Regions from separate parts of the Homo sapiens genome. Here region 2 is linked to region 1. Evidence: fine-mapped expression QTL. A gene starts in region 1. The other region holds a variant in brackets. All regions are shown on one strand. Distances are between the middles of the regions.

Evidence for each region. PIP is the estimated chance that this variant, and not a neighbour inherited with it, causes the effect.
Region 2: its variant is the best candidate, but not a certain one, in a credible set for the expression of AKAP11 in neutrophils (Naranbhai 2015, PIP 0.76).

What each region holds. Positions count from the first base shown.
Region 1 is chr13:42,269,663-42,275,040 of GRCh38, forward strand. It overlaps AKAP11 (A-kinase anchoring protein 11), which reads left to right and starts at 2,490. Exons shown (of 13, transcript NM_016248.4): 1 at 2,490-2,566. RefSeq lists an enhancer at 1,680-1,859 and a silencer at 2,400-2,749.
Region 2 is chr13:42,317,158-42,322,535 of GRCh38, forward strand. It overlaps AKAP11 (A-kinase anchoring protein 11), which reads left to right. Exons shown (of 13, transcript NM_016248.4): 12 at 371-531; 13 at 1,931-5,378. The coding sequence ends at 2,071. Among named protein-coding and RNA genes, the nearest start is that of AKAP11, 48 kb to the left of the region's middle. The variant G/T (reference allele first, on the strand shown) is at 3,116.

The sequences.
Region 1 (5,378 bases):
TGATAAGGAACCTTGATTTGGTTGTATCACTAATGACAGAGCTTCGAGTTGGAACTCATCTCCTGATTCGTTTCTTTTGGTGAAACATCCTCTTGATTTCTGAGCTTTCAACCTCTATCTTTTCAAATCTTACACTAAAGAATAAGTATCTGCGTAGAATTTCATTTTCTGTTCCCAGAATTGACTTTAAGAATAGACAGAAGAGGTGGTTGTCAGTGTAGCATAATGGAGGGAAAAAAATTAAAGATGGGCCCTTCCTTTTCAGCCATTTGTTTTCCCCCAGGTAACAAAAGAAAATCCTCCATTTTATTTTTCCTAGTAATTAGGAGAAATCCACATGTTTCAACAAAGGCAGAAACAGCATGAGGACTCTGACCTAATGGATTTTAGAAATGTTGAGATCATAGGAAATTAAATTAAATTTCATGACTGTCTCTCACCTGGCCTATAAATCTCCTAATCTCCCTTACTTCTGCTTTGGCCTCTTTAAGACCCATTCTTTTCAAAGACGAGACTTTTTTTTTTTAAAAAAAAGTAAACTCTGGGTGTCTCTCCCCTATTAAAAACTCTGTAATACCTTATATTGCGTTTAGAATAAACTTTCAATTCCTTTCTTGGCTAACAAAGCCTTACAGGATCTGGCCCATGCTAGTTTCTGACAGAGCAAGAGCATCACCATCTTGGACAAGCACCGCCATTTTAAGTTCCCCTTGATTAAAAACCGCCTAAATCCAGCCCCAGAAACATCAGCCTAATGGCTAATGTCAGCATGACCATAAACCACAAATAACACTTCTGACCAGAAACTTTCCAACCCTGAGATAAACCCCACTCTGATCAGAAATATGCCTCCCCTCCAACCAGAGACATTACACCCCTGACAATAAAACTCTCCTCCACCCAGAAACATTCCAAGTCTACAATATGCTCTCCCTCCCTAAACCACTAAATACCTTTAGTCTGTAAGAGAGAACACTCCTGACCGAAATCGGCCAGAAGCCCCTCTCAGGTTTATTCTCCAAAATAAACCTGTCTCTGTTAAGCTGCTTTTTGTGTTTCTTTCTTTAACTCTTACAGTTTCCATCTCCAGGCTCAAGAAAGTTTACTTTCTCATTTCTTCTTCCCTCAAATGCACTAGAATAGATCCTTACTTAGGGCCTTTGAATTAGTGTTATCCTTTTCCTGGAATGCTCTATGCTCTGATTTTTGCGTCTGTTATTCAAATCGCTGCTAAAATATCTCCTCCTTAAAAGGGCATCCCCTTTACTAGCCACTCAGTCACCATCACCATCACGTCACTTATTGTAACTTCTTTGCATACAGCTTAAAACCAACAGATTTTTTTTCTTTTCACCCTCAGATAAGTTCCCTAGAATCTACACTACTTGTCTTCATCATTGTTCAATCAACAGCCTAGAGTAGTGTTTGTTGAATGAAGAAATGAACAAACGAATGCACCCTTTCTTCCGTGACCCTCTCCTCTGAACAGGGCAAAACTTAACTCATAACGAGGATACACTCAAAAATGTCTTTCTTATTGCCAGGTGTTTCCACTCTTGAGGAACAGATGCCCTTTAGGAGACAGGGCAATTTGACTGGACTGGCCCTTCCGATTTTAGGTGAAAATAATCACCATAACAGCTTTTCATCTCTGGCTAGGCTTCCCAGTGACCAAAGCTTTACTTTCCGATTTCCATACCACGTAAAGACATCAGGGTGAGCACTAGGGCCCTGAGAACCCTGGAAGCTACTTCTTGGCTGGGATAGGGCTGGTTGCCCGGTGCGCTGTGAGTGGTCCTCCCCGGAGATGCTGGGAGAAGGGGCGGAGCCATCAGAAAGGATGAGCCTTCCTTGGGCCTTCGGATCTGGTGGGGCTGCCACTTTGGGAAGGGCCCCGGGCTTCGGAAGAAAGCAAAACTAGCCTTGTGGCGAAGAAGGAGCCCAGCTGGCCCCAGGCTGTTAAGACTAAGGGGTCGAGGGAAAAGAGGCAGAGCCTGAAACCAAATCTGCGGAGCAAGCCAAGGCCTGGGGACTTGCCAGAGGGAAGGGTTAAGCCGTTTCCAAGGCAACGGACCAGGAAGCGCGCAAGACGTCCGCCGCAGGTTCGTAGGTCGCCCTCGAATTTAAAGCTCCCAAGGCTGAGTGGGTCCCGGCCAATGGAGAGGCCCCCTTTAAGTCATGTGACCAGCGGGGCTGCCCCGCGGGCTGCTCCGCGGGCTGCACTGGAGCACGTGGGAAGGCTTTTTTTCCTGTTCCTTCTTTCCCTTTTTAAACGCCCACCCACTTTTGCGCGGGCTCGGCCGCGGAATTTTTCTCGCGAGAGGCGCGCTGCCCTCTCGCGAGAGAGAGTGGGAGGCGTGGAGAGTAGGCGGTGTTGCGGGCCGGAGCTGCGGCGGCGGCGGCGGCGGCGGAAGCCGAGGGGTGGGCAGGGCGGGGGCGGGCCGCGGGGCTGGGAGGGGGAGGGCTGGGGGTCAGCGCGGGAGGGGGCCAGCTTGCTTGCCCGGCTCGCTCACGGGTCGTTGAGGCCGGTGACATGTCTGTGAGCTGCGGAGGCTGCGGCCCCCAGGTGAGCCGGGCGCCGACGTGCTCGCCGCGGAGGCTGCGTTTAGATGGGGTGGCGGCGGGTGTGCGGCCGGCATGGATGGAGCGGCCCGGCTCCGGCGCTCCAGCCCCTCCGCCTGCCGCTGGTCCCCCTTCTGGCTTCGGGGCCGCCCGAGAGCTGCGCCTTCGCATGGCGGAGGGAGGAGGGCGGGAGGAGCGCGGCCGAAGGAGGAAACTCACCGCACCGGGCCCAGAGTAGAGGGAGGTGCTGGGTCTCGAGACGCGTCTTCCTGGGGTCCCAAGTGTGGCGGTGGAGCTGCCGCCCCTTTTAATGACAGGCTGTTTCCATCCCCGGGGTGGTCTTCAGAGACGGCCCCCCGGGTGCGTGGTGCGCGTGCTTAGTGTGTGTTCGTGGTGTGCGCACAGGAACATTTGCAGCGGTTGGGAGGACGTTGCACTTTGTTCCCGAACAGCATCCTTCACTGTCAGACCCCCGGAGCCTTGGAAGCAGGCGCTGCTCAGATCTTGTAAACGGAAGGCGTCAAGGGGCTCCTCAGAGTATTGATATTTGGATTTGCTGTCAAATACTCTCCTAGGCTGTTAATGGCTTAAGGCTGGCCATAAAGTACCCCGAATGGATTGAGTATACTGCTGTTAATCCAGGCATCTAAGCTGCTTTATAAAAAATATGTAGATGTAACCGAAGTATTAAAAAGTGACAATGACAGTAAAAGCTAACATTTTTTCTCTTCCCCATATTACCAGCTTTCATTTTTTTTCTCTGCTTTGTCTGTCTTCTAAAACCATATAAAGTTGGATGTGGTTTAGCTTTAGATGTTAAGGAGTTTCATGGTGAGAAAGACTGCTGAGATACATACCTAATAGCTTTAGTACAAACTGGAGTTAATTCCTGTTCTCTTTTCAGCTTTTCAATCGCTTGCAAAATGCTCGTTTTGCTTAGCTGCTTCCCACTGTTTTAGAAATGTCATGTCGATTGTTATTTTGTTATGTCTGAAAATACTCAAAATATGGAGTACTAAGAAAAAATGGGGTATCAGTAATGCACAGATATATTTTTTTTAATGTCATCATTTTAGGATGGCAGCCCAGTGCCTGGCATGATTGGTGTCAGTTAAAATAGTGCAATTGAATGATTTTTTTTTTTTTTGAAAAACACATTTACTTTTTCAAACGGTACCCTGATTATTCATTTTTTCTTGTCGTTGTTCCTCCTGACAAAACTGACCCAGGGGTGGACAGTGAATGTCACTATTGTAGCTGTAACAGTAATTTATGAAAGGTCAAAGAATGTAAGGAAATCAGGGAAGAAGTGGGTTCCCAAGCTGAGCTAGAGACTAATGTATGTACCCACATAACTGCAGTATCGACAATATTGATAAGGGCCTAGCAGTGGACTCCTAGGCCAGTGATATTTTGCAGTTGTTGAGGATATGGGAAGTTGCCTAAGACATGGAACCATAGTGAGAAATTCTCTAGCCTTCTCTAGCCCCCTGAACTCCAGGGATAAGTCTAGAAGCTGAAGAAGTCCTCTTTTGCCTTTAGAGGCTGGAAAAAATACGGTACTTTTAATTTTTTTATTTTTTAATTTTAGGAACTTACTGTCTGGAAAAGGAACTCAAACCAATTTGGACAATATATTAAAGGCCGTTTTAAGAGAAAATGCCAGTTGTAAATAGGTAGAGGAATTCTGTCTATACGTGACAAAAATGTGAAAGACTTAGAAAATATCTCTTTGTGAATGGGCAGAGGAGACCAGTGTTGATTAGAAAAAATTCCTTCTTACTCCATCTTAGCAAACTAATTTTCAGAAGTAGAAAAATAAATTTTTTGGCTGGTCTTCATAACCTTTTGGCAAGGGTTTCAAACTTGTAGGGCGTGTGGTGTTTGGTTTTTCAAAAGTAATTGAAGTAACTTTGGATAGGGTAACTGATTTTGTTTTTTTTCCTGTCTTGTGGTCTGCATTTTATTAATCAACTACCTGGAAGGATTGAAGGGTGAGGACAGGTCGAGAAAAGCTTTAAGTTAAGCCTGGGCATGAGTTAAGGGTCAATGAGCTGGTAATATGGGGAAGAGAAAGAAAAATGCTTTATCAGTTTAAAAACAGCCTGGAAAGATCCAAGTGTCTCGATTCTCCCAGTCATCCTTACATATAAAAGTTTATTAAAAAAATACTTCTGGGCCAGGCTTGGTGCCTTACACTTGTAATCCCAGGACTTTAGGAGGCTGAGGCGGGTGGATCACTTGAGACCAGGAGTTCAAGACCAGCCTGGCCAACATGGAAAAACCCTGTCTTTACTAAAAAATAAAAAATTAGCCACGTGTTATGGCACATGCCTGTAATCCCATCTAGTCGAGAGGCTGAGGCACAAGAATCGCTTGAGCCTGAGAGATGGGAGATTGCAGTGAGCCGAGATCGTGCCACTGCACTCCACCCTGGGCGACTGAGTGAGACTCTGCCTCAAAAAACAACAACAAAAAACTTCTGGAGTAAAGGCATTTGAAATTTGTAGATTAGAGACTGGACATGGTAAAAGGAGAAAAGTTATCATTTTTAGAATAATCTGAGAATGTTTCTTGGGAAATAAATGGGGTAGAGGCCTGGAACAGAGAGGATGTTACTTGACTGAAAATGAGGTATATTGTAAAGAGTTTCGGTTTGGGAGTCAGGTCTATTAATTAAATGAGCCTCATTTTCTTCATACCCACCTCAAAAAGTTAGTGCGAAGCACATAGTAGCTGCTTACTCAGTGTTTTTATTTTTACCTCCCGTAATGGTTTGAGGATTCTTTGATTGCAAGGAAGAAAAAGCCAATTTA
Region 2 (5,378 bases), 47 kb after region 1:
CTGAGCCACCATGCCCAGCCTCATTTTTATTTTTATTGTAATGATAGCTTTATAGTTTTATTTTCTCTCTAACCCACTGGTCATAATTTATATCAAATTATGGCATTTATAGAACTTGAATTCAGTATGTTAAAATGATGTTTTATATTTTTGCAATCAATAAATGATCAAAGTTATTCCTTTGTTTTACATTATTTTGCCCTTTAGAAGTTTTAGTTGAGGTTATGGTGTGGTTAGAAAAAGATGGATATTTTTTTCACCATTCATTAGAATCCTAAGAACCAGAAAATATTTGTATCTACTTGACAACCAGAGTATTGAGAGTTAAATTGATGAGTTTTACTTTATATTGTTTACATTTAAATATTAGGTTTGGGGCAAGATGGAAAGACACTGCTAATTACGAATATTGACATGGAGCCATGCACGGTAGACCCCCAGCTAAGGATTATTCTTCAGTGGCTCATTGCCTCTGAGGCTGAAGTTGCAGAACTTTATTTTCATGACTCTGCAAATAAGGAGTTTATGCTAGTAAGTACCTACCTTACAGAGTGTGAGGATACATTTAACAGTATATGATGTTCTTGTCATGTGATTGGTCTAACAAGATGCCTGGTGATGGTTAAATTCTTAGGCTGTAGTGTCCAACAGTTTGGGTTCAGACATCAGCTCTGCCACTTTCTAGCAGTATAACCAGAGGCAGGTTCACCAGTCTGTCTCATTGCCCCTAACTGCACTATGCAAATGAATATAGAATCTACCTTACAGGGGTTTATGAGGATTAAATATAATGTTAAAAAAAATGCTTGGTCTAATGCCTGGCATAACACTAAGCTCTCAAAGGTAGATGCTATTAATAAGCATTGTGTGTGTTCCTATGAAAAAATTGAATTATTCTCTGTATTTAATTGATTTGTAATTGTACCTAATGATTAATATATCTGTTTCTCTGATAATCCAGTTTCATTTGTATGAGCAGCTGTCATAATTAAAAGCCGATAAAAGTTTAAACAAGATGCTTACTATGTGCCAAGTACCTTATTAGTCAAGATTTTCAGTTTACAGTCTTAAGGTTTTTGTTCCATAATTTTCTTTATCAGAACTTTCCTTTTGGGGTGGTAGAAATATTCGAATTGTGGTGTTGGTTGCATTCAACTTGGAGAACATACTAAAAACCATTGACTAGGACACTTTGGGTGAATTGTATGTTATGTGAGTTTTATCTCAATAAAGCTGTTTTTAAAAAGGTTAAGCATATATATGTTACACAAAATTAAAGTAGTTTTTCAGAATTTAACTTACAGATCTTTCAAAACTTAAGAGCTTTTACAGAACTTAGTAGAAAAAGAAATGAACAAAAGCATGTCGTGAGTGGTGACAACAGGATTTATTTAAACCTGTATTTATTTATTTATTTATTTGTTGTTTTGTTGTTGAAACATTAACATTCTTTAACTTAGAAAGCCATGTTTCCATTGAGGCTAGAGTGTGTATTCCAGAAAAATGCCACACTATATGTTGTGGAAGGAAAATCCACATCCTTTTATTGAGTTTGACGTTGTCTTTATTATTTTATGTCCTAATTGAGGGTGTGGCAGTTGTATTTAGTTAGGTGAAGAATTTCCTGTAGAAACTCAGCCTCTGCATGTCCATGCAGACTATTTGCTTGGTGAGGTTTGTGGAGCTCTGTCTCCAGCGATCCCAAAGTGTCATTCTCTGGAGGAGATGTGTTTATAAAGGGGAAGAAGGGAAAATGTTTAATTTGGGTAAAGGGGTAGCGGTTTAGAGGGGAAGACCTTGTTATAACTAGGAAACGGTATTTAATTGTAAACAGCAGGATTCTTAAGTTTCAGCTAATATTGAAAATAAAAATAAAAGCTTTGTTATAAAATTGTTTTTGGTTAATGTTTGACACATCTTTCTTTCTTAGCTTTCAAAACAATTACAAGAGAAAGGATGGAAAGTGGGAGACCTCCTGCAGGCTGTGCTTCAATACTATGAAGTGATGGAAAAAGCTTCCAGTGAGGAGAGATGCAAGTCGCTGTTTGATTGGCTCTTGGAAAATGCATAGAGCAAACCCCAAACCAGTATATTTTAGTATTTGTTTGGGGAGGGGAACAAGCCAATAAAGATGTTTAGGATAAAATTTGAATAGTGAATATTAACATCGTAAGTCAGTTGGGAGGCAAGTAAATATAGCTTTCTGAGCGCTTTGTGTTATCACTCGGTGTATATAGTTCATACTTTTGTAATCTGTCAAAATACTACCTTCATTTATTCTTCTATACACATGTGTAGTGTGTCAAGACCCTAAGAACATGTATTTGAAGGAAGGTCTAACCAGGGGGTTTTCAGGGGCATTGTCTGACCACATTCTTTTTGTATCCAAATAGTGCTGCTAGAAACTGCACTGAAGTGGCTGAGGATAGGTTCCAGTGATAGAGTTATAATTTTGCTCCTTTGCAAACAAATGGTATCTAATTAATAACTAGTCTGACATCAGAAAATAAAATTGAGGCTGATTTTTAAAAATTTCTAGTAGATTTTTGGCCTTTCCTGTTTTTAAAAATCAGTTTCATTTTCATATTTCATAGATCAGCTATTGGTAGCTTTTTGATTTCCCCAAACTATTTAATTTCTTAGCAGAAACATTAGTATTTTAGGTTTCTATAAACACTATAAGTGATAGTTTCCCCCATCCTTTCATTGACATTATTTGCCAATGCTGCCAGTCATTCTGGCATGAAAGGTGTGTGTGTGTGTGTGTGTGTGTGTGTGTGTGTGTGTGTGTGTAAGGGAGTACTTTAACCTTGCCAGTTTGTTCCCTCTTTTATTTTACTGTTTTCTTTTTAGAAACCCACTGTTAAAATTTAAAAAGGTGCTTTAAAATAAAACGCCTATAAAGATTGTGCAGTAAGAATTTTTATTGACAATAATTAAAATTTTTTTTGACAATTTTGGGTTCCCAACTTATCTTACAAGTGAAAACTTAAATTGTAAAACATGTTGAAATTTTAAAAATTAATGTTAATATGGAAATGCATTTAGAGAAGCCCAGTAGTTTTTATTGTTGGATTTTTGAAAAAACCTCTACCAAGAATGTGGTGTTTTTTTT[G/T]TTTGTTTGTTTGTTTGTTTTAGAAAAATTGGGATTTCCCCCCACCCCGCCCCACCCAGATAAACTATATCTACACTGTCTCGTCAAGTTCTCTGACACGATCTTTCTGGGCTCTACATTTCCTACTAGTTTGTGTCCAGAAACTGCAAGTTGACATGAATAGAGGACAAAGGTTGTGTCTTGCTTTTGTCTCTCTCTTCCCTCCCTGCAACTCTCTCTCCCCTCCTCCCACTCTCTTCCCCCTCCCCCCTCCTCCCACTGTCTCTCACCTCCCCCACCCCCCACTCTCTCTCATCTCTCGCTGTGTCCTGTGTATGTGTGGGTGTGTGTGTATTTGGGTGTGTAAATGTTGGTTCTTCCACTACTGGATTTTGTAATCTAGGATAAATCACTTTTTTTGGGGACTTTGATTTTGCTCCATTACGTTTTCATTTTTTCTGAGCACTGACTGTTCTGAAAGCTGCACAAAACGTAGAAAGAAGACATAGCGCCTGCCAGGGAATAGGAAATGAGGGCACTTACACATTAATGTGAATTAGTAATTGTGGTATAGAAATGTTTTATAGTGAAAGATTCAAATTTGCTTTTCAAGAAAAATGCCAAAAGCTATTTAAATAATTCGAGGTTACATCGTAGGTTTTGATTTTTCTCAATTTAAGATACAGAAATACAGCAAGCCTTAATATAAAGTTTCCTAAAGTTTCTTCAAGTATTTTTTAAGGTGGAGAAATGCAGGAATTGTATAACCAGAATTGTTCCTGCCTTTAGCTTTTCAGAACTTGAGATGTGGCAGCACTGGACTGGGTTTTTTTAAATGTTAGGACTAGGAATGTTTGCTCTTGTTAATTATGAATTAATTGATTATTAAGTTTAGAATGCATTTTTACAAGTATCTAACTATCAAATTGTGTTTAGTAACTTGAGTGTATGCACAAGTTTGATCAACAGCAAAATAGAGTTCTGAATTTCTTTTAAAGTGATGATATATTATTTTGTGAAACTTTGTGTTTGAAAATGTTTATTTCTGTTTATGGTGTAATCATTCTGAGGTGAGGCTTTTCTTATTTCCTTTGCATTTTGCTAGAGCTGTGCTGAGTTCAGCATTTGCTTATTTAACCACTACATAATGACAGACCAGTTATTAGGTATTAGCATGTGTGGTAATAATAATAGTGGAACTTCACACTTACATCAATTCAGTGCAGGGGCATAGAATAAAATATTAAATATTGGCAGATGTATGAAAAGAAGTGTGAGTTAAAAATATTGAATATTGGCAGGTGTGAAAACAAGTGTCAAAATTCCTCATATAGAGAAAATAATTTTGAGTTTAGAGTATTATCTTTTAATTAAGTGTAGTCTAAACTTAACTTTCTGTAAAGGCACTTTGTGGTTTTTCCAAAGATGTTCTAGATCTATTTGGTTGCTCTATAGTCAAACAGCTCTTTTGAAGACAACTGTCTTATTTTATTACAAATTGGCTTGACATATTTATACTGTAACATTGTAATATTGCTGTGCTGTACATTTTGGCCCTTACGAAATACGTCTTTTTCAGAACTGTTAAAGTTTTGATGTACATCGAGCTGAATTCTGTTTTTACCAGTTTCAAAACCTTCAAGTGATATGTGGAAAAAAGTGAATGAGACCTCTGATAGGGGGTTTTCAGAACCTTGTTCACACCAAAATGTGACAGTTCTTTCATGTTTTCCTAAACCAAGTTAAAATTACATGTATATTTTGGTGTTAAGGTTGATTTTTAAGATACTTCTGATTTGTACAAAAGGAATGTTTCCTTTATAAATCACAGAAGAAAATGACAATATCTGTTGGATATTTGATATAATTTAATGGTGTTATAAAACCTTTAAGAGGATTCATGGTGAATATATGTGATAACATCTTTATACTTTGAAAAATGTTCCACTTACCCTTCAGATATTTGTTGTAAGTTAATTCAATTCTTAATACTTTAATTTTGCTCCAACAAGGGCTTTATGTTGCTGGTAAGAGAATTTATTTACTAAATGCACTATGTATAAAGTGAAAGATAGTTTACTTATCTGACTTTGATATTAGATGGCTGACATTAGTGCACATAATGCAGAGTTTAACCTTGATTCTTCAACAGAGTCCAGATTTAAATGTCTACTTAGTTAATTAGTTAGCTGATATTCTTCCACAATTAATATATTCAATTTCCCATCAGTATATCACTTTAAATTTTATGTTTTTCTAAGGAAACTTTCCACAGAATTTTAAA